Regions from separate parts of the Homo sapiens genome. Here region 1 is linked to region 2. Evidence: fine-mapped expression QTL. A gene starts in region 2. The other region holds a variant in brackets. All regions are shown on one strand. Distances are from middle to middle.

Region 1 (4,385 bases), 27 kb after region 2:
CATGGAGAAACCCTGTCTCTACGAAAAATACAAAATTAGCTGGACATAGTGGTGCAGGCCTGTAATCCCAACTACTCGGGAGGCTGAGGCAGGATAATCGCTTGAATCAGGGAGGCAGAGGTTGCAGTGAGCTGAGATCATGCCATCGCATTCCAGCCTGGGCAACAAGAGCAAAACTCCGTCTCAAAAAAAAAACAGAAAGAAAGAAAAGAAAGGGCCGGCACGGTGGCTCACGCCTATAATCCCAGCACTTTGGGGGCGGATCACCTGAGGTCAGGAGTTCGACACCAGCCTGGCTAACATGGTGAAACCCCGTCTCTACTAAAAATACAAAAATTAGCCGGGCATGGTGGTGGGTGCCTGTAATTCCAGCTACTTGGGAGGCTGAGGCAGGAGAATCGCTTGAACCCAGGAGGTGGAGGTTGCAGTGAGCCCTGAGATCACACCATTGCACTCCAGCCTGAGTGACTGGAGCAAGACTCCATCTAAAAAAAAGAAGAAAAAAGGCCAGGCGTGGTGGCTTATGACTGTAATCCCAGCATTTTGGGAGGCCAAGGCGAGTGGATCACGAGGTCAAGAGATCGAGACCATCCTGGCCAACGTGGTGAAACCCTGTCTCTACTAAAAATACAAAAAAAATTAGCTGGGCATGGTGGCGTGCACCTGTAGTCCCAGCTACTCGGGAGGCTGAGGCAGGAAAATCGCTTGAACCCAGGAGGCGGAGGTTGCAGTGAGCTGAGATCACGCCACTGCACTCCAGCCTGACAACACAGCGAGACTCCATCTCAAAAAAAAAAAAAAAAAAAGCCAGGTGCAGTGGCTCACACCTGTAATCCCAGCACTTTGGGAGGCCGAGGCAGGTGGATCACAAAGTCAAGAGATCAAGATCAGCCTGACCAACATGGAGAAACCCTGTCTCTACGAAAAATACAAAATTAGCTGGACGTAGTGGTGCAGGCCTGTAATCCCAACTACTCGGGAGGCTGAGGCAGGATAATCGCTTGAATCAGGGAGGCAGAGGTTGCAGTGAGCTGAGATCATGCCATCGCATTCCAGCCTGGGCAACAAGAGCAAAACTCCGTCTCAAAAAAAAAAAGCAGAAAGAAAGAAAAGAAAGGGCCGGCGCGGTGGCTCACGCCTATAATCCCAGCACTTTGGGGGCGGATCACCTGAGGTCAGGAGTTCGACACCAGCCTGGCTAACATGGTGAAACCCCGTTTCTACTAAAAATACAAAAAATTAGCCAGGCGTGTTGGTGCACGCCTGTAATCCCAGCTACTCAGGAGGCTGAGGGAGGAGAATCACTTGAACTTGGGAGGCAGAGGTTGTAGTGAGCCGAGATTGCGCCACTGCACCCAGCTTGGGCAACAAGAGTGAAACTCTGTCTCAAAAAAAAAAGGAAAAGAAAGAAAAAGGAGAGAAAGAAAGAAAGAAGAAAGAAAAAAAGAAAGAAAGAGAAAAGAGGGGAGGAGAGAAGAAAGAAAAGAAAGGTCCTGTACAGATGGCAGCATCATTTTTTCCCCCAATTCCTGACACAGAGGCTGAGCCATTATTGTCAACCTACTGTGAAAAGACATTATGTCCTCTCTGTCACTGGCAAATCCTGACCAGAGTCTTGTTGGACTCTGAGAGCATCCCCAGCAAAGAACTCTGAGCATCACAGAGGAGCAGCATGAAGTCTTCCTTTAATGCAGTCTTGATCTACCTAGAACATCAGCTACAAAATAATTTTGCACAGCATCATTAACAATAGTGCTGCCTTCGTTTTGTATATGACTCCACAGCTTTCATACATATTCCATCAGTTGTATTTGGGGTTTTATGAAAACCTGTGAAGTTGGCCAGGCACGGTGGCTCACGCCTGTAATCCCAGCACTTTGGGAGGCTGACGCGGGTGGATCACCTGAGGCCAGGAGTTCGAGACTAGCCTGGCCAACATGGTGAAACCCCGTCTCTACTAAAAATACAAAAATTAGCTGGTGGTGGCACATATTTGGGAGGCTGAGGCGGGAGAATTGCTTGAACCTGGGAGGCGAGGTTGCAGTGAGCCGAGATCCTGCCATTGCACTCCAACCTGGGCGACAGAGCGAGACTCCATCTCAAAAAAAAAAAAGAAAAAAATATAGGAGTATATCTTTTTTTGTTGTTTTTGTTTTTTGTTTTGAGATGGAGTCTCGCTCTGTTGCCCAGGCTGGAGTATAGTGGCGTGATCTCGGCTCACTGCAACCTCCGCCTCCCAGGTTCAAGCAATTCTC[T/C]TGCCTCAGCCTCCCGAGTAGCTGGGACTATAGATGCCCTCAACCATGCCCAGCTAATTTTTGTATTTTTAGTAGAGACGAGGTTTCACTATGTTGGCCAGGCTGGTCCTGAACTCCTGACCTCGTGATCCACCCGCCTTGGCCTCCCAAAGTGCTGGAATTACAGGCGTGAGCCACCGCGCCTGACCGAGTATATCTTTTTTAAAAAAGAAAATAAATAAAGAAATAAAGTCTACATAGCGGTGACTGGGAGACCAGAATATCCCATTCATGTCTTGGTCCTCATCGTACCAAATGGATCACATCCTGTTTCTTCATCATTTCATCAGGTGCAAGGCAGTTGGGCCGTGATGGGGCAGGACAACAACCAGAAAATGCTGGAATGTGGCCAGAGCTGAGGCAGTGCTCACCCCACACACATTCATTAAATGCCTACTGTGTGCAGAGTGAGGTGGTGAATACAAAGGTAAACACAGCAAGGTGGTCTCACCCTCCAGTCCCTGGAAGAGCACAGGTCACCACTGGCTGCTCTCATAGCAGCTGCCTAGTATGGGCGGCTGCGTCAAGCCAAAGCGGAATGGTCAGAAGAACAGCATCAGTGAGACAAAACAGTGGAGACAGCATGACAGGACACGGACTCAACGGCTGGAAGCCAGCCTGGCGCGCAGCAATTGGGAATGGGGTGTCTGTTTTGGAACAAAGGAGTTGAGCAACCATGATTCGGAGAGGCAGAAAAGCAAACACCAGGCTTTCCGAAAATGGTTGCTATGACCACAAACCTAAAGACAGACAGCTGCATGTTCATTTCTGGGCCCCAACTGTACATATTATTGGTATTAGCATCAGCATTATCTTGGAATAGGGACAACGTCTTATATGAGGCATTCATTCAAAATGTTATTTAATTTATAAAACTTCCTTATGCTACTGCCAGGGGAAAAAATTATTAAGTAAATTCAGCTAAATTTCTGGAAATTTTATTTGCATACAATGTATACAAATAACAGCGCCTAATTTAGAATCCTGGCTCTCTCACTTTCTAGCTGAGAGATTAGAGACAAATTAGTGGATTTGTCTTTGTGTCTTTGTTTGCAAATCTGTAAATGGTGTAACAGTCTCCACCTCACAGGGTTACAATGAGGACAGAGTGAGGTAATGTGTGTAAAGCTCTTCTAACAGCCCGGTCGGGGGCACAAAGTAAGTGCTATATACATGTTAGCTATATTATTATTATTAAATCAGTATGTTGAGCTCAAAGTCAGACCAATGTCAGCCTGTCCCCTCTTTTTTTCCTTATCTGTCCAATCTTTAGAGATAATTTTGGATGAACATCTACTTTTCTTTTTTCTGAGATGGAGTCTCGCCCTGTCACCCAGGCTGGAGTGCAATGACACGATCTCGGCTCACTGCAACCTCCGCCTCCCGGGTTCAAGCAATTCTCCTGCCTCAGCCTCCCGAGTAGCTGGGATTACAGACGCCTGCCACCACGCCTGGCTAATTTTTGTATTTTTAGTAGAGACGGGGTTTCACCATGTTGGCCAGACTGGTCTCAAACTTCTGACCTCAGCGATCTGCCCACTTCGGCCTCCCAAAGTGCTGGGATTACAGGCTGGATGAACATCTACTTATTACATAATCTTTTTAAAAACGTCTCTCTTTTTTTTTTTTTTTTTTTTTTGAGACGGAGTTTCACTCTTGTTGCCCAGGCTGGAGAGCAATGGTGCAATCTGAGCTCACCGCAACCTCCGCCTCCCAGATTCAAGTGATTCTCCTGCCTCAGCCTCCCAAGTAGCTGGGATTACAGACATGCGCCACCACGCCTGGCTACTTTTCTATTTTTAGTAGAGACAGGGTTGGTCAGGCTGGTGTTGGACTCCCAACCTCAGGTAATCCGCCCACCTCAGCCTCCCAAAGTGCTGGGATTACAGGTGTGAGCCACAGTGCCCGGCCTTAAAAACTTCTTTTTAAAAATTATTTATGTATTTGTTTATTTTTGAGACAGGGTCTTGCTATGTTGCCCAGGCTGGTGTCAAATTCCTGGGCTTAAGCAATCTACCCACCTCAGCCTCCCAAAGTGCTGGGATTACAGGTGTGAGACACCGCACCCAGCCTAAAAACTTTTTATCCTGG
Region 2 (4,385 bases):
ATCTTGAATTTATTCACATATTTTGAAAGGAGTGCCACCTTGTTAGCTAGCTATCAGGACTCAAAGAAGATATGGTTCTTGGCCTTGGTGAGCCCCCAAAATGCCACAGCCCAGCCTAACATTTTTAAAGCTTCACTTTTGATCCTTAGAATTCATGCCTTCATTCATTCAATATCCTTTTTTTTTTTTTCTTGAGACACAGTCTCGCTCTATCGCCCAGGCTGAAGTGCAGTGGCACGATCTTGGCTCACTGCAACTTGCAACCCTCCTGGGTTCAAGCGATTCTCCTGCCTCAGCCTCCCGAGTAGCTGGGATTACAGGCGTGCACCAGCACACCCAGCTAATTTTTGTATTTTTAGTAGAGACGGGTTTTCACCATGTTGGCCAGGCTCCCAAAGTGCTGGGATTACAGGCGTGAGCCACTGTGCCTGGCCAATATCCATTTATTGAACCCCTATCTATGCACACTCTGCTAGACTTGGGGATACACATCCAGAACACACACAGCCCCTGCCCTGAGGTTGTTCACTGTCCCTGAGCCTAGCAGGTGTGACAAGTGTTGTGGTACAGGGCCCCCAGCGTGCTCTGAGCATGACAGGAACGTCCCGAGGTGGGAGTGGGGCTGGGGGCAGCACAGGTGCACAGGAGGGGCGTTGAGGTCAGAGTTTCTCCAGTAAAGAAGTAGAGGGTGTGAGCGGGCAGAGTGCGCACAAGGGTCAAGGCTGAAAGGACCTGACTCTTTGGTGGCCTTCCTCTCTGATATGGCTGGAATGATAAGCAGGAGCTCATCACTAATGCCTCACCCGCAGGGTTTTAAGTGGATCTTGGTGCCCTGGCCCAGGGGGCACTGGCGTTTTCAAGCGGAGGATGTGTTCCAATTTGCCTTTTAAGAATGTCTAGGCCGGACGCACTGGCTCACGCTGTAATCCCAGCATTTTGGAAGGCCGAGGCGGGCGGATCACTTGAGGTTAGGAGTTCGAGATCAGCCCGACCAACATGGTGAAACCCCATCTTTACTGAATTAGCCAGGCGTGGTGGTGCCCACCTATAATCCAAACTACTCGGGAGGCTGAGGCACGAGAATCACTTGAACCTGGGAGGTGGAGGTTGCAGTGAGCCAGTATCGCACCACTGCACTCAGCCTGGCCGACACAGCGAGACTGTGCCTCAAAAATAAAATAAAATAAAATAATGTCTAGTCGGAGAGCCGGGGAGGTGGCGCGCGCCTGTAATCCCAGCCACCCAAAGAGCTATGGTCTCGGCACTGCACTTCAACCTGCGAGACCCAGTCTCAAAAAGAAAAAAAAAAGTTTAGTCGGCAGCCAGCAAGGCGGGACGCTGGGAGGCCAGTTCAAAGAGTGTCGTCCCAAGTGCCGGAGGGACGGAGCTGTAGCCCCCAACCTGAGCTGGACCCGAGGGTGGCGGTGACTAGGACTCTCAAGCCCTACAAAGCTGCTCCCAGGAACCCGAGGCCTCAAGGCTGGATCTGAAAGAATCGGAATGAAGACTCGGAATGAAGAGTCCCAGGGGAACAAGTCCTGTGTGACTCCGCCGCCAGGACGACCTTCCAGAAAGCAGACTTCTCCGCTCCAGTTCTAGCGGAGACGGAGAGAGTGAACCAAGAACCATCATCCTGCGCCAGCCAGGGGCAAGCGGAGCCTCAGTTGCTCCCAAACCCACGCCCGCCTCTCCTTCCTCTCCTCCTCCACAGGCTTTCATTTATTTACTTAAGTATTTTTAGCCCAGTAGCAGTTTCCAGTCCAGCGGCTCCTCAGATCTTTCGCCGGCTGTCCGCCCCACCTGTCCGTCAGCACGCGAGCCAATGAGCGGGCGAGGGCAGCGCTGTGCCCCGCCCCTGAGCCGGCAGCCCAGTCTCGGGAGCCCGGGGCCGCCTGGGCCTCCTGCCCGCCGCGCTCGAGTCTGGAGCTCGAGAGTGACACTGCGCATGTGCGGGCGTCCTGCGCATCTCCTACGGCCTCCAGGACAGAGGAACCGGGGGAGGCAGGGGGAAAAGGCCGGCCCAGCAATTCCCCTACCCCCCGGTCCCACGTGTACCCTCCTGGCCTGGGTCGCCCCAGCCCACGGGGAGCGGGCGGAGTCCTGGCCCACGAAGCCTTGTCACCTGGCGGGCGAATCCGCAAGCGGAGACTTGTCTTTAAAGGGCTTTGGGCCGGGCGCGGTGGCTCATGCCTGGAATCCCAGCACTTTGGGAGGCCGAGGCGGTGGATCACGAGGTCAGGAGTTCAAGACCAGCCTGGCCAAGAAGGTGAAACCCCGTCTGTACTAAAAATACAAAAAAAAAAAAAAATTAGCAGGGCGTGGTGGCGGGCGCCTATAATCCCAGCTACTCGGGAGGCTGAGGCAGAGAATTGCTTGAACCCGGGAGGCGGAGGCTGCAGTAAGATCGCGCCACCGCACTCCAGCCTGGGCGAGAGAGGAGACTCTGTCTCAAAAAAAAAAAGGGAGCGGGGGGGCTTTGGTCTGTGCAGGAGCTTCCCGGAGATGCTTTAGAGCTGCGTTTGCAAAGTGCAGCGCCAAATGCTGCAGAGAGGTGGGAGTCAGAGGAGAGGAGGACTGCGGTCCCAAACCCTAGCAGTTTAGTCTGTCGGGGAGGAGAGGAAGGGAACCCGGAGAGCACTTGTAAGCTACAGTGCTGAATATGAGGAGGTACTGAATTGAGCATCAAATGCTGAGAGTTAAAGAATTCTCCCTAGGGACCAGCCAGCTATTATCTGGAAGCAGTGAGTTTGGATAGAGCCTGGAAGCACGGGTAGCATTGCTGTTAGCAATAAAAGGTGAACGTGTTAACATTCACTGCAATTCGTTGTATACACTATTAAAATATAACTTGCTCAATTCAGGGGCGGTGAGTAAAGTAAAGGAGTCAGAGCTCCTAATTATTGGAGAGGCCAGGGAAAGCTTCACAGAATTCAAGCTTGAGTAGGGTTTTGTTGAAAGGGAAGGATATACAAAGCATTGAATGTATGCAAAGTTCAGCTAAAGTAAACAGTCCTTTTTGTGTTAGGCAGAGTGCTAAAAGTACTCTGGCTATAACGAAGACTACAACACCACCTTCAGGGACTTTAGCGTCTGTGGAGACTTGAACATCTAATGTTAGAAATATTCTCAGAATTCTGAGACAGCCACCTAGCCTGGCCTTCAGGGAGATCTTCCAGGAAGAGGAAATAACACAGAAAGTGTGGTATATTTAAATATACCTAGCCAGGCGCGGTGGCTCACACCTGTAATCCCAGCACTTTGGGAGGTCGAGGCCAGTGGATCAACCGAGGTCAGGAGTTCGAGACCAGCCTGACCAACATGGTGAAAGCCGTCCCTACTAAAAATACAAAATTAGCCAGGCATGATGGCGCATGCCTCTAATCCCAGCTACTTGGGAGGCTGAGGCAGAAGAATTGCTTGAACCCAGGAGGCAGAGGTTGTAGTGAGCCAAGATTGTGCCATTGCACTCCAGCCTGGGTGACAGAGCCAGACTCCGTCTCAAAAAAAAAAAAAAAAAAAAGGTTGAGGGCATGGTGAGGGAGGGGACTTTTTTTAAAAGCTCTTCAGGAGATAGGGTTGAGAGAACCTGTTTGCTGGTGTCTAGGGTGACTACCAAGTTTGAGGCTGTGGTAACTAAGGTAAGTGTTACAGACTGAATGTTTGTGTACCCCCAAATGCATTTGTTGAAATCCTAGCCCCCAGTGTGATGGTATTAGGAGGTGGGGCCTTTGGGAGGTAATTAGGTCATGAGGGTGGAGCCCTCATAAATGGGATTAGTGCTCTTATAAAAGGGACCCCAGAGAGTTCTCTAGCTCTTCCTGCCCTGTGAGATACAAGAAGTTGGCAGGCTGCAACCTGGCAGAGGGCCCTCACCTGAGCCTGACCATGCTGGCACATGATCTAGGACTTCTAGCCTCCAGAACTGTGAGAAATACATTTCTGCTGTTTAACCCACCCTGTCTATGGTACTTCACAGCTCATACTGACTAAGGCAGCAGAACATACAGGAGGAAGAGGAGCAGGTTTCACAGAGGGAAGACATGAGTTCAATTTTGGACTTCTCAGTAGTCGGTGTCCTCAGTGGTAGCAACTTCAAACGGAAGGTGTCAAAAGTCAAATTCTGGAGAGTTGAGTATGAATGGGAGATGAAGAAAAGGAGGCAGCACTTGTAGCCTGCTCTTAATGTATTTCTGCACTCTACACTAGCAGCCTATTACACAGGACACTTGGATGTCTCCTAGATATCACAAATTCAGCTTCAAAAATGAATTCTTCTAGGTATATGGAAAGATGTGAAGAAGAAAATATAGCAATAAGTTAGGTGGTAGGTATATGGTTGTTTACTGTACAATCTGTCAGTTTTTCTGTATTTTTGAAATTTTTCA

Alleles and levels. Alleles are on the strand shown, and positions count from the first base shown. SD is a standard deviation of normalised expression in the study named.
In carriers of allele T in region 1, the expression in sigmoid colon of the gene that starts at base 1,956 in region 2 tends to be lower than with C alone (small effect, 0.39 SD a copy in GTEx).

What was found. PIP is the estimated chance that this variant, and not a neighbour inherited with it, causes the effect.
Region 1: its variant is the best candidate, but not a certain one, in a credible set for the expression of FALEC in sigmoid colon (GTEx, PIP 0.51).

Annotation. Positions count from the first base shown.
Region 1 is chr1:150,541,013-150,545,397 of GRCh38, forward strand. No RefSeq gene overlaps it. Among named protein-coding and RNA genes, the nearest start is that of ADAMTSL4, 6.2 kb to the right of the region's middle. RefSeq lists enhancers at 2,294-2,794, 2,795-3,295. The variant T/C (reference allele first, on the strand shown) is at 2,256.
Region 2 is chr1:150,513,797-150,518,181 of GRCh38, forward strand. It overlaps FALEC (focally amplified lncRNA regulator of ECM1), which reads left to right and starts at 1,956. Exons shown (of 6, transcript NR_186305.1): 1 at 1,956-2,266; 2 at 3,977-4,324. RefSeq lists enhancers at 1,401-1,470, 1,541-1,690 and a silencer at 1,781-2,150.